Homo sapiens: one gene and its partners. The protein of the gene in region 1 interacts with the protein of each later gene in a pairwise test. Each region holds a gene or a part of one and is shown in the gene's direction. Other genes may lie near its edges.

Region 1 (7,903 bases):
ATAATTACAGGAACTATAAGTGAATTTGGCAAGGTATAAGATAGTAAGTCAATGTACAAAATCAATTATATTTATCTAGACTGGCAGCAAACAATTGGAAAATGAAATAATTTCATTTATAGGGGCATTAAAAAACGAAACATTTAGAAATAAATTTAATAAAAGATGCTAAAGATGTCTACATTGAAAACTACAAATTAAACTGAAGTAAATGGTTCATGAAATGTAAGGTTTTTAAGGTGTCTTTTTTCTGTAAATTCATCTATAAGCACTTTTGTAAAATTAAGAAGCTGATTTTTTTTTTTTTCTTCTAGAAACAGGGTCTCACTCTGCCACCCGGGCTGCAGTGCAGTGGCACAATCATAGCTCACTGTAGCCTCCAACTCCTGGGTTCAAGCAATCCTCCTGCCTCAGCCTCCCAGGCAGCTGAGACTATAGGTGCCCACCACCATGCCCAGCTAATTTTTACATTTTTTTAAAGAGATGAGGTCTTGCAGGCCAGGCACAGTGGCTCACGCTTGTAATCTCAGCATTTTGGAAGGCCGAGGTAGGCGGATCTCCTGAGGTCAGGAGTCCAAGACCAGCCTGGCCAACATGGTGAAACCCTGTCTCTACTAAAAATACAAAGAAATTAGCTGGGCATGGTCGTGGGCACCTGTAATCCCAGCTACTCAGGAGGCTGAGTCAGGAGAATTGCTTGAACCCGGGAGGCGGAGGTTGTACTGAGCCTAGATCATGCCACTGCACTCCAGCCTGGGTGACAGAGTGAGACTCGTCTCAAAAAAAAAGAGATGAGGTCTTGCTATGTTGTCGAGGTTGGTCTTGAACTCCTGAGCTCAAGCAATCCTTGTGCCTCAGCCTCCAAAGTGCTGGGATTACAGGAATGAGCCACAGTGCCCAGCAAAAAATAATAACTTTTTTTGTAATAATTTTAGATTTACAGAAAAGTTGCAAAAATAATACAATGAGTTTCTGTATACTCACTCAATTTTCCATAAAGATAGCATTTTACATTACCATAATATGTTTGTCAAAAGTAAGAAATCAACACTGGCACCTTACTGTTTTATTTGGATTTCACTAATTCTTCCCCAGTGCCCTTTTTCTGTTCTAGGATCCAGTCCAGGATACTATACTGCGTTTAATTGTCATGTCTCCTTAGTTTACTTGAGTCTGTGACAATTTCTCAATCTTTCCTTTTTTTTTTTTTTTTTTTATGAGCTTGTCAGTTTTGAGGAGTACTGGTCAGGCATTATGTAGAATGTCCCTCAGTTTGGGTTTACCTGATGTTTTTCCCATGCTTGGACTATGGTTATGGATTTTGTGGAAGAATGCCACAGTGGCAACATGCCCTTTTCATCACATCACACCGGGGGTACATGCTGTCAACATGATTTATTATGGAGATGTTTTAATTTGATCACTTGGTCAACAAGCTGATTTTAAATTGTGTGTGGGGCCGGGCATGGTGGCTCATGCCTGTAATCCCAGCACTTTGGGAGGCCGAGGTGGGCGGATCACCTGAGGTCCGGAGTTTGAGACCAGCCTGGCCAACATGGTGAAACCCCCTCTCTACTAAAAATATGAAAATTAGCCAAGTGTGGTGGTGGGGGCCTGTAATCCCAGCTACTCTGAACCCGGGAGGTGTAGGTTGCAGTGAGCTGAGATTGTGCCATTGCACTCCATCCAGTCTGGGTGATGAGAGTGAAAAAAAAAAATGTATGTGGAAATACAAAGGATCTAGAATAGCAAAAATAATTTTCAAAAGTTAAGAGCAAAGCTATAAGACTTATATTACCTGATTTAGTGCCTTACAATAATCAAGACTGTGGAATTGGCACAAGGATAAACAAATAAGTCATCGGAACAGAGTAGAAATTTCAGAAGGAGAACCACACTTATATGATCAATCAATTTTCGACAGATACAGGAAAACAATTCAAGGGGGAATTGTGTTTTCATCAAATGGTGCAGGAACAAGTGGGTATCCACATGGAAAAAAAGAGGCTAAGAAACCTGCCCAAGGTCACCAAGTTTGTGAGTGGCAGGGACAGGTATTCCAAGCCAGACTTTCTGGCTAACATGTGCTATCAATTGTAAATATAAATTTATAACCAAAACATTTAGGTCACAATAATTTTTCAGTGTAAAATTCAATTTGAGGCTATACTATTTAAAAATGTCAATGTCATGAAAGCAAAAGCAAAGTTAAGGAAATGTTCTAGATTAAAGGGGACTCAAGAGACTTAGCTAAGTGCAATACATGATCCTGAACTGGATCCTGGGTCATACAGGCACACTAAAATTTCACAAAGGACATGAATGCAATAATGGAAAATAATATGGAGAGTATGTTAGATAATAATTTTGTGTGAATGTTAAATTCTCTGAATTTGAAATTCATACTGCAGTTACGTGACAATATGTTCTTATTTTTAGAAGATACATGTAGAATTATTTGGCTGTAAAGGGTGGTGATATCTGAAATAGTTCAGCATTATTAACAACAATGATCAAAATAATATGGAAAAAATCAAATATTGAAAAATATTAACAGTTGGTAAACCTAAGCTAAAAGTATATGGTCATTCATTGTATTATTCTTGTAACTTACTTATTTGAAATTCTAAAAACATTTTCAAATATAATGTTACAGGTATATATCACTTAAGTGCTAGAATTTGTAATTTTTTTATTTTTTATTTTTATTTATTTATTTTTATTTTTTTGAAACAGGGTTTCGCTCTGTCATCCAGGCTGGAGCACAGTGGTGCGATCATACATCACTGCAGCCTCGACTTCCCAGGCTCAAGCCATCCCCAGATCTCAGCCTCTCAAATATCTGGGATTACAGTTGTGTGCCACCATGCGTAGATAATTTTTGTATTTTTTGAAGAGACAAGAGCCTCACTATGTTGCCCAGCCTGGTCTTGAACTCCTGGGCTCAAGTGATCTGTCCACCTCGGCCTCCCAAAGTGCTGGAATTACGGGGCTTGAGCCACCACATTCAGCCTGTAAATGTTTTTATTTCTTTCAGAGATTTTGTTTCTTATGTTATCTCTCTACTCCCAATGCCTATCATAAGACTTGTAACAGTAAATAGTAAATGTCTGGAATAAATGTAAATATTTGAATCTAGAGTTTGTGGAGGATCCTAAGAATCTTGTGAGATTGCTCTCATAGTGTCAGTCTAACTAGGGAGGTAAAATACGTAAAGTTAAAATTTACAGACGTAGCAGGCTTCCCAAAATAGTAATATGCTTTCTTAGGTACTACAAAGGGATGGAAGCACTGGAGCTCAAAACGGTAGGAGAAGTTTGAAAATAGAAGAAACTGAAGAGGAACTTGAAAAGCCGGTAGGCATTGAAAGGAAGAGGAGTCCTTGGGACAGCAATTGAGGGTAGAATGTGGAGTATCCCATGTTTCTACCACCATTCAGAATCCGATTTTCAAATGAATTCTGTGATGATCAGGATCAATCTGCACTATTTTAGTCTCTAAGTGATCTAAAATTAACTTGGTGGACCTGGGATGACCACGGATGTGGTTTTAAACCAGCAGGTTTCAGAGTCGGGGCGGGTGCAACAGGCTTATAAAGGGAATGGTGGAAAATATTATACGTTAGTGAAAGAGGTTGCGAATGGATTGTGGAGAGCCCTGAATGGTAGACTGCGAGAGTGACAGGATGAAAACGACGACATCATAGGAAGAGCAATCTGTCAGTTGTAATGGCAGTTAAAAAGTGGCGCACAACACTGTACCTTAACCAAACTTGGAATTCCAAAGTGCTGGGACCTCTAGCGGAGAGCAGTTGAGTTCAATTCTATTTTAGATCACGTAGAGACTAAAATAGTGCCGATTGATCCTGATCATCACAGAATTCGTTTGAAAATCGGATTCTGAATGATGGTAGAAACATAGGATACTCCACATTCTACCCCCAATTGCTGTCCGGGACAGCAATTGCCTTTCTAATCGACTGCCATGTTTAGCGATTACTATGCGCCAAGCGCTTTACAGGCACTCTCATTAAAATAGGCAAACCGGGCCAGGCGCGGTGGCTCACGCCTGTAATCCCAGCACTTTGGGAGGCCTACGCAGGCGGATCACCTGAGGTCAGGAGTTCGAGACCAGCCTGGCCAACATGGTGAAACCTACTCTCTACTAAAAATACAAAAATTAGCCGGGCGTGGTGGCGCATGCCTGTAGTTCCAGCTAGTCGAGAGGCTGAGGTAGGAGAATCGCTTGAACCTGGGAGGCGGAGTTTGCAGTAAGCCGAGATCGTGCCACTGCACTCTGGCCTAGGAGACAGAGCGAGAACTTGTCTCAAAAAAAAAAAAAAAAAAAAAAAAGGCAAACCCCTCTGTAAGAGAGTGCTTTATCAAGCCCATTTTACTGATGGGGAAATTGAGGAGAGACGGGATTGGCCAGATCACGACCTGGAGGCAGCAAAGATGTAAAATCAGGGTTGGGATACAGGCTGCGCCGGTAGTGTAGGGGATAGGAACTTTCTGAGACTCAGGAGAAAGCCACAGCGATGGGAAGGGAAGCAGAACACTGGAGACCCTAAAGGCCCACAGGCTGAGAGAAGTGGTACCTCTCCTGAAGTGACACCTGTCAGCACGCCTCTTTTGGGCGCCAGTCCAAAAATCGCGGTATCTGATTGGCGAGGTTGGAGGGGGCTGAACGACCCTAATTGGTTAGTTGGACCTCGAACCAGACTTTCATCTGGAGGATCGGGCGAGGAGTGGGCGGGATTTCGAACTGAGCCACTCCCTTCATTGGTGAAAAGAAAACGAACCAGGAACTATTCGGAAGTGTGATTGGCTGTTGCTAGGAACCGTCTCAAGGCCTTATGGGCCCTGGTTACGGAAGCCGAGGAAGGCTGAGCGCGGGCTCTCAAGGAAAGTAGTCGCGGAATCTCAGTTAGCGGTGGAGAGGCAGTATGTCCGGTTCAATGGCGACTGCGGAAGCTAGCGGCAGCGATGGGAAAGGGCAGGAAGTCGAGACCTCAGTCACCTATTACCGGTTGGAGGAGGTGGCAAAGCGCAACTCCTTGAAGGAACTGTGGCTTGTGATCCATGGGCGAGTCTACGATGTCACCCGCTTCCTCAACGAGGTGGGGCCTGGGAGGTGGGAGGCCTCTGAAGCTGCTGGGGCGAGGGGTGAAAAGGCTGTGTGGAGTGTATGTGGGAAGGAAGGGAGGCTTGGCTGGGGGCGATAAGGCGTAAGAAAGGGATCACGACCCTCAGAGGGAAACTGGGGTGGGATTGGGGGAGGGCTTTAGTTTGCATGCATTTCCAGTCAGCTCCGAGTTCTGGTGCCTTATGTAATATCATGTATTACTTATGTGTCGAGCATTTGCTGTGTGCTCAGCTAAACTCTAAGCCATCATTATCTTTATTTTACAGAAAGGGAAACTGAGGCTCACAGGTTGAGGACTCTCAGGGCCATAGAGTTAGCAGCTTAGATCCGTTGAACCTAGGTCTGAAGTGCACCCACATCTGTGCTTTTCCAGTGTGCCTTCTGAAGTAATACCGGTTTTGGTTTTCGTCTTCTAGAGTAGAAGCTGAGATTTCTCTCCACACGCTTCCCCATCTTGATTATGCCTCCACTGTTTTTTTTTCCCCCTAATCTGAGTTGACCTTGAGGCCAGAAACTCATAAATCAACCCTTTTTTTTTGTTTTTGACTCATGTTTTGTCATTTTTCTTAAATATTCAAGACTGTTTTATTTAATCTTCAAGTCTGTTGCATTACATCTCATTTTAAAAATTATTTTTGAGACCATGGTGCAACTAATTTTTTTTTTAAGGAAACAGGATAGACTTCTAAATATTTAAAACTTTATTGAGGTGTAATGTACATACGTAAATTGTGCCTATCTAAAATGTACATTTTGATGAGTTTTGAAAAATGTATTCATCCATGTTAAGACATAAACCATTTCCATCATTCTAAAAAGCTTCCTTTCCCTTTGCAGTCATTCTCTCCCAACCCCAGGCAACTAGTGATATGCAGCCGCTAAAGATTGGTTTGAAGCTTTGATTTTCGGTGTGTGTATGTTTGAAGCTTTGATTTTCGGTTTGTGTGTGATCATTTTATTTTGAGCAATAGATTAATGACTTGTGAAAGTTCACTTCTATTTCTCTGAAGCAAATATACTAGTGAAATATTTTTTCGATTAATTTGGGGCCTAAAAGAGAAATCTCTGCATCCTGACTTTTAATTCTAAAAACTTTTAAAATTTAAAAGTTTCCCCCAAAGAACATTATTTTTAATAAATCTTAATAGTGAACAATAATTTAACAAACTCAGAATTTACTAACTTCTTGCATTTGTATGGTGTATGGCATTTTATGCTTTTAAAAGTGCTTTCCGGTCGGGCGCGGTGGCTCACGCCTGTAATCCCAGCACTTTGAGAGGCCGAGACGGGCGGATCACGACGTCAGGAGATCGAGACCGTCCTGGCTAACACGGCGAAACCCCATCTCTACTAAAAATACAAAAAATTAGCCAGGCGTGATGGTGGGCGCCTGTAGTCCCAGCTGCTCGTGAGGCTGAGGCAGGAGAATGGCGTGAACCCGGGAGGTGGCACTTGCAGTGAGCCTAGATTGCGCCACTGCAGTCCAGCCTGGGGGACCCAGCGAGATTCCATCTCAAAAAAAAAAAAAAAAGTACTTTCCCGGCCAGGTGTGGTGGCTCACGCCTGTAATCCCAGCACTTTGGGAGGCTGAGGCGGGCGGATCACGAGATCAAGAGTTCCAGACCAGCCTGACCAACATGGTGAAACCCCGACTCTACTAAAAATACAAAAATTAGCTGGGCCTGGTGGTGGGCGCCTGTAATCCCAGCTACTCAGGAGGCTGAGGCAGGAGAATCACTTGAACCTGGGAGGCGGAGATTGCAGTGAGCCATGATTGCACCACTGCACTCCAGCCTGGGCGACAGAGCGAGACTCCAAAAAAAAAAAAAAAAAAGCTAGTGGAGGGTGACTTGGATAGTAGTGATTTTTTTTTTTTAACAGAGGTACAAGTAACAGGTTCAGAAAGATCCTGGTCATACAATCAATTAGTAGCAGATTTGACAGATCCCTTGATTTCTCTTGTCTGCATAGCATTACTTCAAAATTCTAGCCTTAGCTATGACTTCTGGTATTTGCTTCATAGTAAGTTTCATGCTAAAGCATGGTTCATAATGGGTAGAAAATCAAGTTTTTTGGCTGGGCGCAGTGACTCATGCCTGCAATCCCAGCACTTTTGGAGGCACAGGCGGGCAGATCACCTGAGTTCAGGAGTTCGAGACCAGTCTGGCCAACACGGCGAAACCTCGTCTCTACTAAAAATACAAAAATAAGCCAGGCTTGGTGGCACCTGTGATCTCAGCTACTTGGGAGGCTAAGGTAGGAGAATCGCTTAAACCTGGGAGGTGGAGGCTGCAGTGAGGTGAGATGGTGCTGCTGCACTCCAGCCTGGGTGACAGAGTGAGACTCCATCTCAAAAAAAGAAAAAAAAAATCATGTTTTTCATTTGTGGTTTTATTTCCCTCCATTTTTTTTCTTGATTGATTCAGAATAGATGGTGAGCTTGGAGGGAACACTCAGCCCTTACAGAGAGCATTAATTCAGTCTCAAGTAATAGTTGCTAACCTGTTTCTTTCTTTTTTTTTTTCCTCTGTGAAGATTCCAGAAGTAACTAACCTGTTTCAACCACATGCTGATATAGCCAGAGACATCACTAATGTGCCAAGGTTTCTCTTGGAGCTTGAGCTGCAGCTCTTTACCTGCAGTTTTGTTTTTTTTGTTTTGTTTTTTGAGACAAGGTCTTACTTTCACCCAGGCTGGAGTGCAGCTCACTGCAGCCTCAGTCTCCTGGGGTCAAGTGATCCTTCTATTTCAACCTCCC
Region 2 (7,028 bases), on another chromosome or scaffold:
CCACACGTGTGGCCAGGGGCTGGTGCCCTCCCCTCTGCGATCTCACCTAATCCTCATTGTGCTTCTTCCCAGTTTTCATGAAAGAGGGAACTGCCACCTTTTGGAAGAGGTGTCAGCTGCTGAGACAAGGAGAGCCCGGGCATGAGCTCGGGAGGGCTGGGTCCCAGCCCTTGGCTCTTTTCTGGGGACCTTACTGCCCCTTATGGGGTGAATGTTCAATCTGGAGGGGACTCTTGGGTGGAAAATGCTTTCAGTGGGGCATTTTCCTTGTACACCTAACACGAATTAAGTATTCCAGTCTAACTGATGATTCTCAGCCAGATACCACAGAAACGGAGGAGGTGAGATGCACCCCACAGGGGGCCTCTTTAGCTGGGACTGCAGATGTCCTGGATGGGTTAGATGTGGGGCTGTGGTGCCCTGTGGTTCCCCAAGTAGTATTGGTTTGTGGGAGAATGTGCTGCTGGGTGGGTGGAGGGATGAGTGAGGGGGCGCCCCCGCCACCCCACCACCCTGAGACTTGGCCCCAGCTGTTCTCCCTGACAGAACATTCTCCCTTCCTGCTTTGCCTGGTCAGTACCTTTGCATGCTTGGGACCACAGCTCAAGCTGTTTCTCCTCCAGGGGAGCCAGCCCTGACCCTTGACCTCATAGCACCATGCGCCCCATCTTCCAGCATTTACCACATTGCCCCACCTTGTTTAGTGGGTTGAATGGTGTCACCCCAAAATTCCCATCCACCTGGAACCTCAGAACATGACCTTGTTTGGAATAAGGGTCTCTCAACTGCCATTAAGTTAAAGATCAAGCTGAGCTCATGCTGGATTCGGTTAGGCCCTGAATCCAATGACAGTGTCCATGTGACAGGCAGGACAGGACACACAGGGATGGGACTGATGCATCCACAGAACGCCAAGAATTTTCCGGGGGAGAGGCCTGGGACGGCATCTCCCTCACAGCCTCAGAAGGAACCAACGCTGCCAGCATCTTGATTTCAGACTTCTGGTCTCCAAAACTGTGAGAGTTGTTCTGTTGCTTTGGGCTGCCCAAGGAGCCATACACGCCTTGTCTGTTGGATGGTTTGCCTCTCTCTAACCACCTGCCCCCCAGACAGTAGTCCCTGAGAGACGGCCACACGTCTGTGTTCACTGTCAAATCCAAGTGCAGGCATAGTACAGGGCATACAGCAGGCACTCAGCAAGTGCAGATGATGGTTGGATGGATGAATGAATGAGTGAATGAATGCATGCGTGCTCTGAACCCTGTCTGTCTGCTTTCTGCATCTTTCTACATCTCTGTAGATGAATCCAAATATTCAGTCTTTATGCAACATGGCCACATAAATTACAGTACAAAGTTTGAGGCAAAACTGTGCTACTTTGCATTTTGTTATTGTCTTTGTGATAGCTCCCTTTTTCCTCCATTGAAACCTAAAACCATTTAAAGTCCATTCAATTAGCCACCATCCACCTCATTTTATTCTGGCGAATGTATAATTTGTTCCTGGCCCTCAATAACTTGGTAACCCAGAGAGTTTCCTGCCTCTCCCAAGCTTGGGAAGGTCGAGCCTCAGATGGCACAGGTCTTCATTCTGACTCCACACGCCCTAAATTCTGGCGTTCTGTCCCCAGTCTGCGGACACTTCTGGCTTCCGCCCTGCCCTCAGTTGCAAGGACATCAGGGGATACTCTGACACTTATGCGTTTCCATAGGGACTGAATTGAGACTGGGAGGTGGAGGAGGGTAGTTCCGAGCTATGGGTCCTGGCCTGGCTTCTTCCTGCACAGACTACATTTTGGTGACTTTGATTTAATTTTCTCAGTTCCTCTTTTTCCTTTTCCTTTGGGAAAAGGTTCATGTGCTTCAGCATGTGAACACTAGATGGTAGCAAAGAAGAAAGTCTCCTTACCTGGGCTTCCCTTGCTGCAGGAGGGACCCTGGCCCAACTGAGTCTCCACCCAAGGCAGGACTGCAGGTGTCTTAGTTCATCTGAGTGACTTATAAACCACAGAAATTTATTCGTCACTCTTCTAGAGGCTGGAAGTCCAAGATCAGGGTGCCGGCAGATTTGGTGTCTCTGATGAGGGCTTGCTTCCTGGTTCATAGGCCAAATTCCTGGACTTTCTTGAAAAGTCTTCATCTCTGATCACCCTCTGAGTCACTACAGGCCCATTAAGGTGGGCAGGTTCTCCTCTGTGTGCTGTGGTCCCCACCCTGCCCCCATGGAGAAATTGCAGGAGGTCCTTTGCATTCCTGGGTTTCACCTGCCTGGTCCCTGGAGATGCGTTTACCCCTCTCCCTTTTACCTCTCCTTTACCCCTGCTGTCACCTGGTCCAGTTGGTAACGCTCAACTCTGCGGGATGGGAGTCCCACAGCCTCTGCCAAGTGTAAGTGGAGCTGGGTGCGATGTGCTGTTCTCAGCCCCCACCTTTTCCTGGCAGCCTGCCCCTGAGGTGGCTTCTGAACCTCAGCTTCCTCATCTGTGAAATGGGGGTGACAAGTGGTCCCCTGCACAAGCTGGGTGGGGCGAGCCAGGCAAAGCTCTATGGGGGCCGTGGGGGCAGTGCTGGTTGTCACATCTGTGATTGACAGTGGGGCAGAGACCTGGGTGGGATCCCAGCTCCACCAAGCTGAGCGAGAGCAGGCAAACCACGCTGCCTCAGTTTCCCTATTTGTACAAGAGGGCTAGTGATTCCTTCCTCATGGGGCTGGGGTGAGAAGTAGAGGCAATGATGGTTAGAGACAGAGGGGCTGGGGGATGCTGCGTGTCACCTGCGTGTGCTCAGGAGTGGGGCACTGTCCTGAGCAGGAGCAGCCTGGGGAGGCTGAGGCCAGTGGGGAGAGGACAGCGCAGTGTGCAGAAGCTGGGGATGGGTCTCCCTGCAGCCCCTGCCCTGCCTGGCCACTTCTTGCATGGCTGGCTCCTTGTCATTTCTCAGGTCTCAGCTCAAAGTTTCCCTCTGCAGAGCAGCCTTTCCTGACCTCCCTCTCCCAAACCAGCTACCACCTCCCCCCGACCAGCCCAGTACTCTCAGCCCACCTGCGTGGTGCCCTCTCGCCCCCCTCCCTCCACCACTCTCTCTCCCAGCCCTTTTCTCTCCCTCTCCTTCTGTCTCCTTCTCTATTCTACAATCATCTGCTCTCTTTCTGTCTGCCTGGCCTCTGTCTGTCTCCACCAGCTGACGGCAGGGCCTGGCCCGTTTCCCTGTGGCCTGGCCTTGTGTGGCCAAGCAGGTGCTTGTAGAGAAAGCGAAATAACTAAAGTCCTCCACGAGGTTTACAGTTTCCTTTTGGGTTTTGAGGAATACTTTTTATTGATGCTGTCCACATCCCAGGATTGTATTGGAAGTTTGTTTCTGGTTTTTAGGGAATGGGGTAGTTTAGATCTGGTTGTTTTGCTGGTGGGATTAAAGGGATCTGGTGTTTGCACCAGTCCTGCCAGGACGCTTTTGGAATGAGAGTTTGTGCTGAACACCTAAGAGCTTCTGGGCCTGTGCCAGCTGCTAGGCTCCTGAAAAGGAGCTGATGGTCTCATTTTACAGGCAAGTAGGCTAAGCCTTTGAGAGCTTCAGTGACTTGCCCAGAGTCTTGCATACTGGGAAATGGCAGATCAAGACCAGAGGCCAAATCTGCAGAAGACAAAGCCCATGCTCTCTGCTCTTCCGGGCACCTGACACCCTGCTGGCCCGGAGCACATGCAGGAGACTGTCATTGATGGAAGGAGGGGGTGTCCCACTCATTTAGACTTGAATGAGCAAAGCCTGTTTAGAATCATCTTCAAAGTCATTTCATGTACACAAGTGTTTATTGCCCGTGTTTTAAGTGCCAGGCCTGGGGAAACTGTAGGAAGGAAGGTGGACACAGGCCTGCCCAGGAGCAAGAAACAGACTGGGCAGCGTGATTCACTCCAAGTAAGAGGAAAAGTGTCAGGGCAGGCTCAGGTCCCAGGGGACAGGAGACGAGGGATCTGATCATGGCCTCTCTAAGGAAATGGTATTCTAGCAGAGGAGCGGGGAAGCATTTCAGGCAGAAAGAACAGCCCATGCAAAGACTCAGGTTGGACGGAGTGTGGTGCCTTCAAAGACGGGAGAGATCTTCACATGCTGGAGTGAAGAGAGTGAGGTGGAGATGCAGCTAGGGAGCCGAGTGGGGCCACCCCCAGGGGCCTTGAGACTGGGCCATGAGTTCGAATCATGTCCTAAGGAAGATGGGAGAGTGATCCAATTCACCTTCTGGGGTGATCCTCCTGGCAGAGATACAGGGAGAGGGTTGGAGCCCAGAAATTTATTCCTTACTGTTCTGGGGGCTGGAAGTGCAAGCCCAAGGTGCTGGAACAGATGCTGTGGGGAGGGCAGAGCGGACCATGGTGCTCATCCAGGCTGAAGGGTGGCTGCACAGATTCTTCCGGGTTTCCCAAGAACAAGAAGCAGCTTCAGGAAGCTGAATTCATAGCAGAGAAGCAGGAAGGAGGCTTTTCTAAGCCCAGCGCCCTGCAGGGAGGATGCTGGTGCTGGTGTCTGCAAGGCTTGGCCCCTAACAGGGTTTGCCCTACAGATGGAGCAGAACTGGACAGAGATGCACCCTGGCCTCTAGCTTTGGGAGCAGGGATCCCGGTCCAGCATCTTGGCATTAGTTGGGGCCCCTCCTGGAGGTGCAGGGGAGCGTCCTTTCCGCTCATGGTCCCCAGTCTCAGCAAAACCCTTGGTCCCAGCTCCTGAAGACCTATGTTCTTGCTGCTTCCTCCCACACCCCAGGCCAAGCCACACTCTTCCAAGCCTCCAGCATGAAGAGTGCCGACCCTTCCCTCCGGGGCCAGCTCTCCACACCCACGGGGTCTCCGCATCTCACCACGGTCCACCGGCCTCTTCCCCCAAGCCGCGTCATTGAGGAGCTGCACAGGGCGCTGGCCACGAAGCACCGCCAGGACAGGTGAGGCCCTGCCCCATGAGGGAGACCTGTGCTGCCAGAATCCCTGCCTGGCCAGCCTCAGGCTGTGCAGCTCATGCCACGCCCAGGGCCTTGGCTGGGTGTCCCGTTCTACAGTCACTTTCTGAACAAGGAAGTCACATTTTCATTTTGCACCTCGCTCTGCAGATTGCATAGCTGATCTTGGTTCCCACATTCTGGGACGGGGTGCACAGTGAATGTGCACTATGGGAACCTGGCCACAAAGTCCTGTGCGTGAGCCCCTCAGGACCCAGGGTGGGGTGGGAGCTTTGCAGGAGAGACTGACTTAGAGAAAAGTGGCCGTTCCACTTTGTCCCAGGACACTGAGGGCTTCATAGTTGTCACTGGGCAAGAGTGTAAGGCAGCCTGTGCCTGCAGCTTACTCTTATTTTGGATCACATGTGTCTCATGGACTGTGAAAGATTAGAGGTAAAATAGGTAATAGGAGACAGTATGGGTTGGAGGAATATTAGACAAACAAAATGTCCTTCTCAGTTTTTGTGAAGTCCTCGCCCTGAACATTGATTGCATGTATTTTGGCAGGTTTTATTACTTGCATGTTCTGTGCTTTTCAAAACAGCATGTTGTAAACAGCCATTTGCCTTGAACTCAAATCCTCATGCTCCTTCTGGTGTGTCCAGGATAAAAACCAAGAGGTCACATGCATTTTGGGGCTGCCTCTGTGATATTCATTATAAGCTCCAAAGTCAATCGTGCTGGGTTTCTGGGTGAAGGGGGTGACCTATAACCTGAACCATCTTTCTGGTTTAGTTTTCAAGGAAGAGAAAGTAAAGGGTCTCCAAAGAAGCGGCTGGATGTCCGTCTGTCGAGAACGTCCAGCGTGGAGCGGGGCAAGGAGAGGGAGGAGGCTTGGAGCTTTGACGGGGCATTGGAGAACAAGCGAACTGCCGCTAAGGAATCTGAGGAGAACAAGGAGAACCTGATCATAAATTCTGAACTCAAAGACGACTTGCTTTTGTATCAGGACGAGGAGGCGCTGAACGACTCCATTATTTCTGGTGAGGAAAGGATGGCCCATTAAGTGTGGGGATCTCGGCCAGAGGTCTAGTGTCACCAGGGGGTCGAGGACAGAGCTCGTGCCTGGGGGAGGAACAGGTCGAGGGGCTGCACCTGGGGAGAAACAAGAGGGGGGCTGTGTCCTCTGGAAATGAGCTTCTCCTGAAACAAGCTGGGGTGGGGGTGCACAGCCAGGCTTAGAGCAAGGAACTAGAAAATACCCCGGTGAAATTGTTTTGAGAGTTGCATATTAGTTTTCATGTGTATGTGAAAAAAAAAAACAACATAAAAGTGGTGAAGCAAGTGACTTAGAGAATGCCACCCCTGAGGATGCTGTGGCGAACAGTATATAGTTGGTGTACAGATGCTCAGTGTACAGAAGTTATAGCAAAAACAAAAACAAAAAAAAACTGTAACAAGTAAAGCAGGACGAGATGGAAGCAGGGGGAGAGGGAGGAAGAGAGATTGCTCTATTGATCTCAAATGGCCGTCTCAGAAGTGCTGTGGATGGGACAGGCAGCATACGCTTGTTTGGGAGCAGATGCTCACAGGGTCCTTGGAAGCCAGCTCCGTATTTGTCCTCATGGTGCGTTCTCCCATGAGGTAATTGCTCCATCCTACCCTTGAGGACTCCGGGGCTCGGGACGATAGAGGCCTGCAGACCACCCTGTGATGAAGGGAGAAGGAGGCTCAGGCCAGGAGGAGGAAGTGCTGAGGGGGTTTCCCTCCCAGCTGGTACTGGCTGTGCGGGGCCCTCTGATTAGTCCCAGGAAGGTCCAGGGCGGCCGTGGTGTTTGGCCTGCAAGGGAAGGATCAGGAAGCGTCCGTTGCTGTTCTTCCTGGAAGCATCTCATGGTGACTGTTGCGGGCATGGGCAAAGCTCAGGCCACGTCTCCCTGGGTGTCTGTGGGGAGCAGGAAAGGGCATCAGATGTCGGTGCTGACCCTGGCTGGTACTGAAGGCATGCGGTGGGTACTGTGATGGGTGGATAGACCGGCAGCCCAGGGCTCCATAGCCTCCCGCTTCCTGCTGCTTTGGAGCCTTTCCACCGGGTCCGAGGAAGC
Region 3 (7,028 bases), on another chromosome or scaffold:
GTCTGAGTTGGGGTTTCTCTTACCCTGAAAGTTGTGTGTGCTCTTTCAAATGTGTGAGAAAGGGAGTTAAGTCAACTTTCTTTAGAAATACCCCCCGAATTGTCAGATACTTCCTTCCCTCCGCTGTGGTTGAAGTGAGGTGCAGGCTGACTTTCAAGTGCTCAGTGACCCGCCAGCCTGGGACCACGTGATCGTCCTCTTTCCTGTCTTCAGAACCATCTTGAACCCTTGCTCTCAAGCAAGATCTTTGGTGACTCATTCTCCCAACCTCTTCCTAAATTGCAGACTCACACAAGGGAAGTTAACATTTACAGCACACCTACTCTGTGTTGGGCATTGTGGGTGCTATTATCCTCATTTTATGAGAGAGGGCACAGGCTGGTTTTGCCATCTGGCTCGGCCATTTACCCATCAAGCCATGTAACTTAACTTTGCCTTCCTTTCCTCATCTGCAAAATGAGTGTTTGGTGAGGCTCCAATAGAGTAGAAACATTAGGCAAGATGTCTATAAAAAGTGAACAGGTCTCCTGACCTTAGCATTTATTGAGGAAGGCAGCTTTACCTACCTGCCTTATTTCAGGTACTCTTTACAGTATGTATTCAAGTAAGCAAGCTGAAGCCCAGAGAAGATAGAATGGCCACAGGGACACCACAGGAGGCACAGCCTATGGGGCGGGACGGGGAGGGGCAATGACCAGGCAGTCTGCCCCAGGAGCTTGCACCTCCCTCTTGGGCCTGTGAAGATTGTTGCTCTGTAACTGAGCTTAGGAAATTGGTTCAGCTGGACCCTGATCTGCTGGAAAATTCTATTTTCTATTTCCCCTAGCACAGGTAATGGCATACAGGCGTCTCCTGTGTTGTTGCCTGGCTGACCCAGCACCTCTGTTACTGAAGTAATACATCAGTCCACCCCTCTGCGCTTCTCATTTTGGAAGTCCCCAACCCCTGTCCCACCAAAAACAGTGGGGGTGTGATTGAAGGGGAGGAAGGACAGCCCTTCTCAACCTTCTGCCTCTGGTGGGCAGTGATCAGAAACAGGAAGGATTTGAGAGCCCACCGTGCACCAGACCACTTTGAATAAGCACTTTATATACATTCTTATTTTAATTTAATCTTGCAGGCCACCTCATAAATGAGGAAAATTAGGGGAAAAGCCAGTGTAACTTGTCTGGGATCACATAGAGCGGAGTCAGTTTTCACATCTAAGTTTCATGTTTCAAAGTACATGGAAATTAGCAAGCATTTATTAAGTATCCACCATGTGCCAGACACTGGGCAAGACTCTCAGGATACAAAGAATTAGGCTACACTCCGAGCTGCTGGAGAAAAGGATACATAAACCCACTGGGAACAAGACAGTGGGTGTGGGCTACAGAAGAGGTTTTCAGGAGGTCGCTTAACGAGGGTCTGGTCCAGCCTGAGGGGTCAGGGAGGGCTCTCAGGAGATGACCTCAAGCCAGAGTGGGGTCTTGGATTAGAAAGAACAGCTGGGAACCTGGGAGGTCAAAGCTGCAGTTAGCCTGGATTGCGCCACTGCACTCCAGCCTGGGCAACAGAGCAAGAGCTTGTCTCAAAAAAAGAAAAAAAAGATTAAAGAAAAAAAAAAACCTAACTGGTAAAGGAAGGGAGAAGAGACTCCTAACAGAAGATGGAGAGTGGCCCTTTCTCCTAGCCTGGGGAAGGCAGACTGCAGGTTTCTTGCTGTGGCTCTAGAGAGTCCCTTGTCTCCTGAGGGTGGAGCAGGGTTGCCCTAGGTCCTGCCCTCTGTCTAGCATCCCAGACCAAAGTCCAGGTTTTGCTTGACTGCTCATATAGCTGACCTGTTCCCGGAAGCCTCTTGGATCCCACTGGCCTCCTTCCTTCCTAAGCTCCAAAGTGCTTTCTTGTGTTCTAAGGTTTTCCATATGTACCTCCTTTCATTTTCTGGACCCTTTGGACTGGTCTATACACACTCCAGTCCAAAGTAGTAAGGCTAGTTCCAATTTTGAGGTTCTGGCACTCTTTTAACACCAATCCTGCTCCCCAGATTTGAAAAATAAAACCATGAAATATATGACAAAATTACATGTGGCCAAAATGCTTAGAATGGGGTACATTGAATTTTTTGGAAAGTTGAGGGTTAATATAAACACCCTCTTTGTCTCAGGCCTTGTTGGAAATTGTGAAATGCACTGGTCCACTTAACCGCCTTTGTAAGTAAAAGGAACACAATAGCTCTTTTGGTTATGGAGGATCTTGGAGGCCTCCACAGCCTTGGGTCCGAGCTTGAGTTCTTACTGGCTAGGACTGCAGAAGTGGAAAGTGGATAAGCTGGTTTTTTGAGAGGAAATTGAAGAGGTCCCTTCCTAATGGCTTGTTTCTTATTTATGTTCCACTCAAAAGTTGAGGGTAGCCAAAAAAAAAAAAAAGCCTTAGTCTGCCTTAGTTAACTGCTCTGGTTAGAGTTTTTTAACAGTGAAAGTAAATGTTTATTACATTGCTTTGAGCGTTTGACTAGAACCCTTAGGATGATTACAGATGGCACAGTAATAGAGAATTATTGAGGGTAGAAATTAGCAAGTGTTGAAAGTTTCCAGTGGGGGTGGGGGATGCAAAGGAGGTGATGATTGTTGCTTTTAAATATTTTCCTGGGGTTTTGCCCTATTTATAGTCTGGCGTTTAGAAGAAACAAAATCCCCCGGTTTTGGATGCTGTGCTTGGCTGGCCCTGACCTCGGGCCAAAGGCTTTCATCTTGAACTTGGCTGTTTGCTGGCAGATTGGGCTCAGCCTCTGAACTGTGTGTGTGGTTGGTGGTGGTGGGAGGAGGGAGAGAAGTGCAAGGTTTTGGGGAGCAGAGGAGCCAGGCCCCTGAGTGGAGCCTCCAAGACAGTCTTTGTCCAAATTGGGATGCTGTATTTGCATGGTGCTGCAAGAACCAGTTGGCCAGAACTGGGGTGGTACAGAGAAGTGAGGTAGGAGACCATAGGAAAGCACATGAAATAGGTTTGCCTCCTTCCAATATTCCTTGTAGGGAGTGGAGAAGATGGAAGCGAATCTCTTTGAGATTTCATTGAGTCCCCAGGGACCTCTGGAATAACGCAGAGGAACCCTTGCCTGTTCAGTTCTTCCCAAGTATGGCTGTACATAGAGAGAGGATGTGCTGCCCTCAGTAGGGATCTTTGTCCAGCTGCCACTGCGGGGCCTTGGTGGTGTTGCTGAAGGAATCACCAACCAAGCAGTATGTCTGATGGTTGTGGGAGTGGCCTCTGAAGCCACACCATAGTTTGCTTAGAATAGTGTATGGCACATCGTAAATGCTCACTAAGTGTTAGCTGCCATTTCTGCTATGCCCAGATATTCCTATGCTGCAATGGAGCGGTCCCTGCACAGGTGTGGTGGGAATCTAATTGGTATTACAAAGAATCAGGAAGGTCTTCCTAGAACAGAGAGAACGTCAACTGAATTTTTTAAACGCAAAAAACACAGAAACATATAATTTACCATTTTAGCCACGTTTAAAAGCCCAGCTCAGTAGTGTTAAGTATATTTACCATTATGAAACAGATCTCCAGAGCTTTTTCATTTTGCAAAACTGAAATTATACCCCCTTCAACAACAATTCTTCTCCCTCTCTACCCAGCCCCTGGGAACCACCATTCTCCTTTCTGTTTCTGTGAACTTAACTACTTTAGATGTCTCCTAAGTGGAGTCATATAGTATTTCTTTTGCTTTGTACAGTGGTACAACCACTGTGAAAAATAGTATGGAGTTTCCTCAATTAAAAATAGAACTACTGAGTGATGCAGTGCTCCTACTTCTGGGTGTGTATCAACCAAACTTCTAAAGAACTAGAAAAGGGATGGGGATGGTGGCTGTCTCTTGCCCATAGCCCTTGGGGAGGTGTTCTGCAGGATGGACCCAACAGGCTGTAGCCACAGGCCAGGGAGGTGAGAGTCACATGACTAAGCTCTTCTGGGTTGCCAAGGAATTTGAACTCCATCAAATTTTTGCAATTTTCAAGTAGGGGAGGGAACAACATTTCAGAAAGTTTCCTCCACAGCCATTTACAGCTTAAAAGAAGTGGAACATTCTACTCTAAAATAACGACATTTCTGTGGGCTGATCCCTTCACTCTGTGGGTGTTCTGATAAGGACACCCCCTCCTTCCTTTCTCCTGCTGATGTGATGTAGTGTGGGTTTTCCCAGAAAGCTCATATTGCCTACAGCCCCCAGAAAAACCCACTGACCTTCACACTCTAGTTCTTTTCCTACTACGAGCCCCTTAGGTCCAGGTCTGGGTCCCTGGCCCAGCCAAAGACATTCCGTCTCCCGTTTGGTGACCTTCCCAGATTGCATCTTCGCTATCCCTTTATGTAGAAGTGGGGGTGGTGTGCTCCAGTTGTAGCTCTGTTCAGCTGCCTAAGGCCTCTAGGCTTCTGGTGAGCAGTTATCCCAATCTCTGAACCTCAGAGACCTGGATACAGTGGAGTTGGAAACACAGAACGGGCCCTCCCTACTGGCTATCCTTTCTGTGCTTGATGAAACCTCAGATATTGGAGAGTCTTTAACCCTCTGGAGATCAGTGCAGCTGAGGAAAGATAATTGGGCCGCAGTGGTGAAATGAGAGGAAATACAGTCCAAAGTGCTCAGTGGTGGGTTGTAGATGGAAGAGGCTGGAGAGATGGGCAAATGTTGAAGGGGCTGGGGGGATTCATTTTCTGTTTTCTGAGGCCTGTAGCCAAACTCCTTGGCCTGTGGAAGACCTGGCTCCAAACAAAACACAGCCCCTGCCCTCAGGGGGCCCCTAACCTGGAGGAAGAATAGTAAGGAGCTGCTACCAGATTGATGTTGGTAAGTGCACCTGGGGACTCCAGGTGTGCACCAGGGCGAGAGATGAATTTTTACTTCTGCGCTTAGAAGAAGGCAGGCTTGGAGGGTGAGTGGCATGGGCAGTAGCCCTGTGAGCATTCTGTGGAGTGCCTACCAGGTGCCAGACATTGGGCTGGGATGTTACCTGTGTCTCCTTGAACCAGTTTTGTGGGCTAGGTATTGCTATTCCCATTGGACAGGAAACCAGAGGCCAGGTGACTTGCCTAGGTCTACACTGTTGGATAGAGGACTGAGATTGAATCCCTCTTGTTGACTTGGAAGCTTCGGTCTTGTCCATAAGTGGAGGTGGAGTCGGGGGCTGGGAGTGACAGGCTTGGGCAACCAATAGTTACAAGCACTTACTTGGCCACAGGCTGTGGGGGCCACAGGCTGTGGGAGCCACTGATGTGCATCATCTCACTGAATCATGGCAGCCACCCTCTGCAGTAAATTCTGTGATCAGCTCGACCTCACAGTAGAAGCAACAGAATGGACCATAGAGATTGAATAACTTGTCTGAGGCTATGTAGCTAGGAAGTGGAAGGATGAGGTTTTGAACCCAGAGCTCACACTGTGAACTATTCTCTTCTATGTGAGGCTACCTTGAAGGTGGGGCAAAGCAGGGAGCAAAGCATAGAGGCGAGAAAGTGCAGGGCATATGTGGTGTCCTCAGAGTCTTAGGGTGCATGGGGCTAAGAGTTCAGGATACTGAGCTGTGTGACTTCATTGAGCTAGTCATCTCATCTGCAAAATGGGATAATAGTACGGTATGTCCGTCATGCCCATAGGGTCTATGTTAACATGTTAGTGTGTTTGGCACATGTAACAGGTGACTGGCTACGTATTAACTGCTGTTCCTGTACCCAGTTCCTCTGTGTACTCTGTCCCTGACACCACCCTGCAGGACCCATCATGCAGTGAGCTCCTAATCTGGAGATGGGGACAAGGGAACATGATAAAACCCATCAAGTTTCTCCTACTGGAGTCAGTCACCCACTGTTTTCTGTGTCCTGCAAATTAACCACCTAAAACAGTTGATGGTCAACACCTAAAAATAGGGACGGTTTCCTTCTTTCTCTCTTCTAGCAGGGCTCTGCTCAGTCCTGGCTTGTCCCAGGCCTTGGTTAAAAATTTTCTGGAGAATTCCTGCGTCCAGATGGTCTCATGGGTATTCTCCTGGGATGATGGTTACCCAGGGTCTGGGATCAGAGCTGGGCCCTCACTCGAGGCAGACACCACCCACCTCCCCTCTCATCTTTGATTGGCTTTGAAATGTGCATTCTTTTTCCTCTCCTCCATCTAAATATTTGGGTTTCCTGCTGAAATATTTAGGCAGGGCTGTGTACTTCTGGCTGTTGTCACCTCCCGTGCCCCACTGTAATCTGGCTGCAGCTGCTTAGCTGGGCCCCTGCTATGAGCGGGGATGCTTGCCCCCTGAGTCTGGGAGAGAAGCTGTGCAGCTGGTAGCAGGACCCCCTTTGTTCAACGGTGTAGTCTCCAGTCCTGCAGGGCTGCCAGGGGCCTTGTTGGCCACACTGGGTGGGGAGGACACAGCAGAGCCCCCTTCCATTTGTCTGAGTGCTTCTGTGCTTGGGGCTAGGGATGAGGAACCCTCATCTGAACTACTGTGTAGCAGAAAACTGATTCTAACCTGTGTTCTACTTTTACCTGTACTCCGGTTTATGCTGTGTGCCCCTGGCCATATTTTCCCTCTCTGGACTCGTCCATTCATTCAGAAAGGCTTGGAGTGCTAGTTAGGTCCAGCTAGACCATTTGCAACCTTCGTGGGCAGTGGCCATGTCTTCCCAGCCCTGGGCCTGTGTTGCCAGGCCTAGCTCTCAGGATGCTCAGTGAGTGTGTGGATTTCAGTCTTGCTCAGTTTGTTGTGTCCGTCTGTCCAGCACTGTGCTCAGCTCAGGGGGATGCCAAAAGCTGTGTGGCCCTTTTGGTTGGAAGTCTAGTCAGTGCAGCCAAGCCTCTTGCAAGGTCACAGCAGAGTGAATGAAGCCAGGTGCCCCAGGCCCAGACTCTGGTCCTTGGTCTCACAGGCTCTAAGTCATGGAAGGGGTAGGGGTGCCATTATTTTATTTTTATTATTATTATTTTTTGAAACAGAGTCTCACTCTGTTGCCCAGGCTGGAGTGGAACCTGGTTAAGGACAGGTATTCAAGTCACACCT
Region 4 (5,465 bases), on another chromosome or scaffold:
CCCTCTCTACATGCTGGAGAGGAGGATACACATACCTGTTTATCTAGATTAGAATTCACCCCAAATCTTTTTTGTCTGCAGGGAAACAAGAGACCAGAGCAGGAGTGGTTCATGGGGCCATTGGAGGAGCTGGTGTTACAGCCCTGCTCGCTCTTTGTCTCTGCCTCATCTTCTTCATGTGAGCATTTTCTCTGGGTCAGGCATGGGCCAGAGGTGAAGAGGATGGACCTGGTGTAGAAGGGTCCTGGAGGGGCTGTGAGGGCTGGAGAAAGGGCAGGGGGTGTGATGATGTACAGAATCCAGCCTGTGGCCACTGGGATAGGCGTGGGTCTATTCCAGGGCCCTGATCTCAGATGTCCAAGGAGTGGGAGGTAGAGGGAGACCTTGTGACTAAGTCTTGTTTGAGGGCTCCTGGATTAATCCCACCCTTTACCTGCCAAAGTCCCTCATTCCAGGCTCATAACAATGGCCCCACAGCCTGAGAAAACCAGGCTCAAAGACCCTGGTGTCTCCCATCAGAGTGAAGACCCACAGGAGGAAAGCAGCCAGGACAGCAGTGGGCAGGAATGACACCCACCCTACCACAGGGTCAGCCTCCCCGGTGAGTGATGGGGCATCCTGGCATCCAGTCTGTCCTGCAGACACCTCCTCCCAATGTGGCCCACCGTCATGCCCCATTCAGCATTTCCAGAACTGAGCTTATTGTCTTTCCTCCTGTTTAACAGTGTAGGTTTTAATATTTTTCAGGTACGTTGAGGCCAACAGATCAGGAGATGATGGCCATTGAAAAGATAGTTTCTTGGCCGGGCACAGTGTTTCACACCTGCAATCCCAGCACCTTTGGAGGCCAAGGCGGGCGGATCACGAGGTCAGGAGATTGAGACTATCCTGGCTAACATGGTGAAACCCCGTCTCTACTAAAAATACAAAAAATTAGCCAGATGTGGTGGCTGGCGCCTGTAGTCCCAGCTACTTGGGAGGCTGAGGCAGGAGAATGGTATGAACCCGGGAGGCAGAGCTTGTAGTGAGCCGACATAGCACCACTGCACTCCAGCCTGGGTGACAGAGAGAGACTCTGTCCCAAAAAGAAAAAAAAAATAGTTTCTTATTCACCGTTCCCGAGAGGGCACACCACACCATGCAAGGCCATATGGAGAAGCACCAGGGTCAGTCAGGAAGCAGAGGGAGCAAGGAGAAAATGGGACAAGAGCCTTCACTGTGGCTTTCATGGAAAAGAATGGGCAAGACAGGGTAAGCAAGCTAGGCAGGTTTAGGATTGGCTACTTAGAACAATTTCAGCAGACTCTGGGGTATAGGAGTTGTCTCTAGTTGTCTGGTACATGGCCCTGGGTTTATTAAGGAGGATTGTGGTCTGGAGTGTAAGAGCTCAATAAAGGATCCAGCTGGTAGTGTGGGCTTTAGATTGACTGGTTTGCACATGAAAGGTGCACTTGTATGCAAGTCCTTTATTAGCTCTAGAAATCTACTATCCTTGGGAAAGGCAGTCTCTCAAGGGTCAGTAATGCCCCAGATGTCAAAACATCAGAAACACTTGGTTGACACACCCCTAAACATACTTCTCCTGATGGGTTCTCCATCTCGCTGATGGCACTCTTGTCCCCATTACCCAACCAGAGACATGGCCCCCTCCTGTCCCAGTCCTCCATCTCTTCCTGTGCCAGTATGCTACGATGCATGTCTGAGCTTCCTCTGAACACGGCTTAACACAACCACTCCTGAGCCGAGAGCCCCTCTTACTCCTTATTCTGCTGCAGCCTCACCTCCCATTTCTCCTCTCCAGAACATTAGCATCACCTCCCTAAAAGGTCATTGTCCCATCATTCCCAAGTTTGAAATGCACTGCTTCTCTACACTCCTGAAAGATTGGCATTCCAACAACTTGGTCTGGCATTTGGAGCAGGAAAACCAGAGTCCCCTTCAGTGCTATGCTCCCCCAACATTAGCCACTCAATCACCTCAAGCAGGGCAAGCTTTCTCATCTCAGAATCATTGCTGGGCTGTCCCCTCCTCCTCATATGCCTAATAGCTACCTGCCCAACTCCAGTGCATCCTTCAAGCTCTGATTTTTTTTTTAATTTATTTAACTCTGACTAAAGTGAACACCACAGTAAAGTTTTTGAACACAGGGTCAACCAGCACCCATTCATTCTGAAATATCTATATAATCCCATTTGCCAATTGCTCTAGGTCCTTGTGCCATTCTGTATTTTTATAAACACACAGTTTACAAATATAAAATATTCCTCCTATCGGGGGCTTAACATTTATTGGGGAAAGGGATGAAAATAATGAACAAATAAGCAGTGCAAATATACATGAAATAGGCATGAAATAAGTGCTATGGCAGGAAATGAAATGGGAGAACGGATTGGACAGTCCTGGGGGCCAAAGAATGGCCTTTGGGCAAACACCTGCAGAAAGAAAGTGAGTACAGTATGAGCAGTAGAGAATCATCAAGGAAGCAGCAAGTACCATGGCTCTGAGGCCGGAACACATCTGATGTTTTAGAGAAACAAAGTAGGACAGTGTGGATAAGGCAGAGTTACGTGTTGGGGGTGGAGTGTGGACTGAACAATGGTAGGTAGGAAATGAGGTTGAAGAGACATAGGAGCTGCAAATATTGCAGGATCCTAAGTCCATCATAGTTATTGATGCGTTTAGAGCAGAAGAGTGACATGAACTGACACTCATTTTAGTGGGAGTCACTCTGGCTGCTCTGTGAGAAACTCTAGTATGTAGTATAGAAGAGAAGATACCAGAATAGAAGATACACAGATAATCAAGCCAAGAGATGACTGACTCAGACTTAGTCCCAAGTAAGAATAATGAATCTGATGTGGAGAAATTGGGTTCCGGATACATCTTGAAGGTGGAGTCAACAGTATTTGCAAGTGGAGTGATGGAGTGCATGCAAGGCATGAGCAAAGATAGCTCACGGGCTCTGCTCGATAAGTGTCTCAGATGTCATAGGTGGGTCCACAGATATCATAGATGTCATGGATGTCCAAGAAGACCCCATAGATGTCATAGATGTCTATAGATGCCAATGATGATGTTCATGTGGTTAACTCAGAATTCAAACTTAAAAAATCAAATTGCCAATGATTAAAATTGCCATCCTTGAAGGAGAAGTCTATTTTCAAGTGTATATCAAACATTATTTTGGTTACCGTAAGTTTGAGGTGCCTCTGAGACATCCATGTGGAGATGACAAGTAGCAGGCAAGTGTCTGGAGCTCAGAAGAGGGCTCCACGTGGGAGACACAGAGGTTGGGAGCTTCCCTATCAACATCCAATAATCGATGAATCTACAAAGAAGAGAAGGGGTCCACAGACACAGCCCTGGAACCCTCCAGCATTTAATGTTAGGGAGATGAGGTGTAAATGGTGAGAAAGCTGAGAATGAATAGGAGCCAATGACCAGGAAATTGCAGGCTGTAGTGTTGGTGGCCAAGGGAAGATGGGGCTTCATGGAGGAGAGGTTGGTCATTTGTTTCAAATGCTGGTAAGTCTGGTAAGATGGAATCTGAGAAATGGCTATTTGAATGTAGCTAAGTGGTATGACAGCAAAGCAGATCTGATTTTTCTGCTGGAGGAAGATCTCTTGACTAGAGAGAGTTCAAGAGAGAATGGGAGGAGAAGAGGCAGAAACTGTGAGTTGAAGGACTCTTTTGAGAAACACTGCCCCAAATCTAGAACCAAGAAATGGGCCTGCACCAGCAAATGGTTGTACCCTGTAGACTTGCCATTTCTCCAGCATCTGCTCCTGTGTCTCTTATGATACCATGTTCCCTGTTTGTGTAGGGCTTTGCACCACTTGAACTAACTGCATTCCCATAGCTTCCCCTACCACACCATGAGCTCCACAAGGAAAAGCCTGGGTTTTATTAGACCTCCATCATTCTACTCTCTCCTGTTCATCTGCACACTGTCACAATTTGCAATTACCAGTCTGTTTCTGTCTTCATCCCCTGCAGTACTGGAAATCACAGGGCCCCTGCTCTGCTCTGCTCCCTCCTGAGGATCCAGTGCCCAGCACATAGGAGGTCCCAGAGACCTGGGACCGAGTTCAGGGTCAACAGATGTGTGACTTTGGAAATTACCTAAGCTCTCTGAGACCTAGTTTCCTGGTCTGTAAAATGGATTAAAATAATAGATGCCAAAGATGATGTCAGTGTAGCTGCCCAGAATTTTTCCACATTAGTCTCTGTGAGTATTCAAGAGAATTGCGAATCAATCAATACGTGCTACATGTGTTAGATAATGAATAAGTAGAGCCTTAATTAATTAACATTTGATGAAAGAATGAAAGAGTGAATAAATGTTCTGTCAGAGTCAAATTTACTTCATTGACCCTCTTTGCCTTCTCCTGGTCCCCCTCCTCACTGCCCTGCTCTAACCCCCTTCTTTCCTCTCCATAAGAAACACCAGAAGAAGTCCAAGTTACATGGCCCCACTGAAACCTCAAGCTGTTCAGGTGCCGCCCCTACTGTGGAGATGGATGAGGAGCTGCATTATGCTTCCCTCAACTTTCATGGGATGAATCCTTCCAAGGACACCTCCACCGAATACTCAGAGGTCAGGACCCAGTGAGGAACCCACAAGAGCATCAGGCTCAGCTAGAAGATCCACATCCTCTACAGGTCGGGGACCAAAGGCTGATTCTTGGAGATTTAACACCCCACAGGCAATGGGTTTATAGACATTATGTGAGTTTCCTGCTATATTAACATCATCTTAGACTTTGCAAGCAGAGAGTCGTGGAATCAAATCTGTGCTCTTTCATTTGCTAAGTGTATGATGTCACACAAGCTCCTTAACCTTCCATGTCTCCATTTTCTTCTCTGTGAAGTAGGTATAAGAAGTCCTATCTCATAGGGATGCTGTGAGCATTAAATAAAGGTACACATGGAAAACACCAGTCCTGGTGCAGTGAGAGTTCGGTGCATACTGGTTCCTTCCCCCTTGAACAGAAGTCATTAGTGATATTTGATCTCTGGAACTATATCAGCAACATGTCCATCTCACTTGCTGCTCAAAACCCCACCATATATGTCTTCCCTGACTTACCCTCCAACATCATCTCTCTCCACTCCTGAATCTTCTCTTTTCATCTCACCTGTCCCCTACTCGGATTTCTGCTTTCTTTATGTCCTGCTACAGGGAAAATCACATATTAGCATTTGGGGAATTTTCTAAAACTCAGAGCTGACCATAGTGAAAATAGTTCCCTAGATCCCCAACCCACAGGAATAATTTGAAGCTTCTCAATGTGACATTCTAAGTCAGAGATGGTCAACCAGTATTAGCAAAGGGCCAGATAGTAAACATGTTCAGTTTTGCAAGCAATGTGGTCTCTATTGCAACTATTTAATTCCGCCATTGTAGCAACAAAGCAGCCACAGACAATCTGAAAATGAATTATATGGCCATGTTCCGACAAAA

Evidence for each region.
Region 2: the proteins of CYB5B (region 1) and PHACTR3 interact in binary tests that used the Homo sapiens proteins (3 or more experiments, as listed by UniProt).
Region 3: the proteins of CYB5B (region 1) and KCNK5 interact in binary tests that used the Homo sapiens proteins (3 or more experiments, as listed by UniProt).
Region 4: the proteins of CYB5B (region 1) and CD33 interact in binary tests that used the Homo sapiens proteins (3 or more experiments, as listed by UniProt).

What each region holds. Positions count from the first base shown.
Region 1 is NC_000016.10:69,419,739-69,427,641, forward strand, and holds the start of CYB5B (cytochrome b5 type B), read left to right. Parts: upstream 1-4,880; 5' UTR 4,881-4,945; coding exon 4,946-5,119; intron 5,120-7,903. UniProt on the Homo sapiens protein: Cytochrome b5 is a membrane-bound hemoprotein functioning as an electron carrier for several membrane-bound oxygenases.
Region 2 is NC_000020.11:59,768,525-59,775,552, forward strand, and holds part of PHACTR3 (phosphatase and actin regulator 3), read left to right. Parts: intron 1-4,754; coding exon 4,755-4,929; intron 4,930-5,718; coding exon 5,719-5,966; intron 5,967-7,028.
Region 3 is NC_000006.12:39,219,467-39,226,494, reverse strand, and holds part of KCNK5 (potassium channel subfamily K member 5), read left to right. Parts: intron 1-7,028. UniProt on the Homo sapiens protein: K(+) channel that conducts voltage-dependent outward rectifying currents upon membrane depolarization. Voltage sensing is coupled to K(+) electrochemical gradient in an 'ion flux gating' mode where outward but not inward ion flow opens the gate.
Region 4 is NC_000019.10:51,235,076-51,240,540, forward strand, and holds the end of CD33 (myeloid cell surface antigen CD33 isoform 1 precursor), read left to right. Parts: intron 1-81; coding exon 82-178; intron 179-442; coding exon of another isoform or gene 443-519; coding exon 520-601; intron 602-747; coding exon of another isoform or gene 748-756; exon of another isoform or gene 757-891; intron 892-4,442; coding exon 4,443-4,613; 3' UTR 4,614-4,941; downstream 4,942-5,465. UniProt on the Homo sapiens protein: Sialic-acid-binding immunoglobulin-like lectin (Siglec) that plays a role in mediating cell-cell interactions and in maintaining immune cells in a resting state.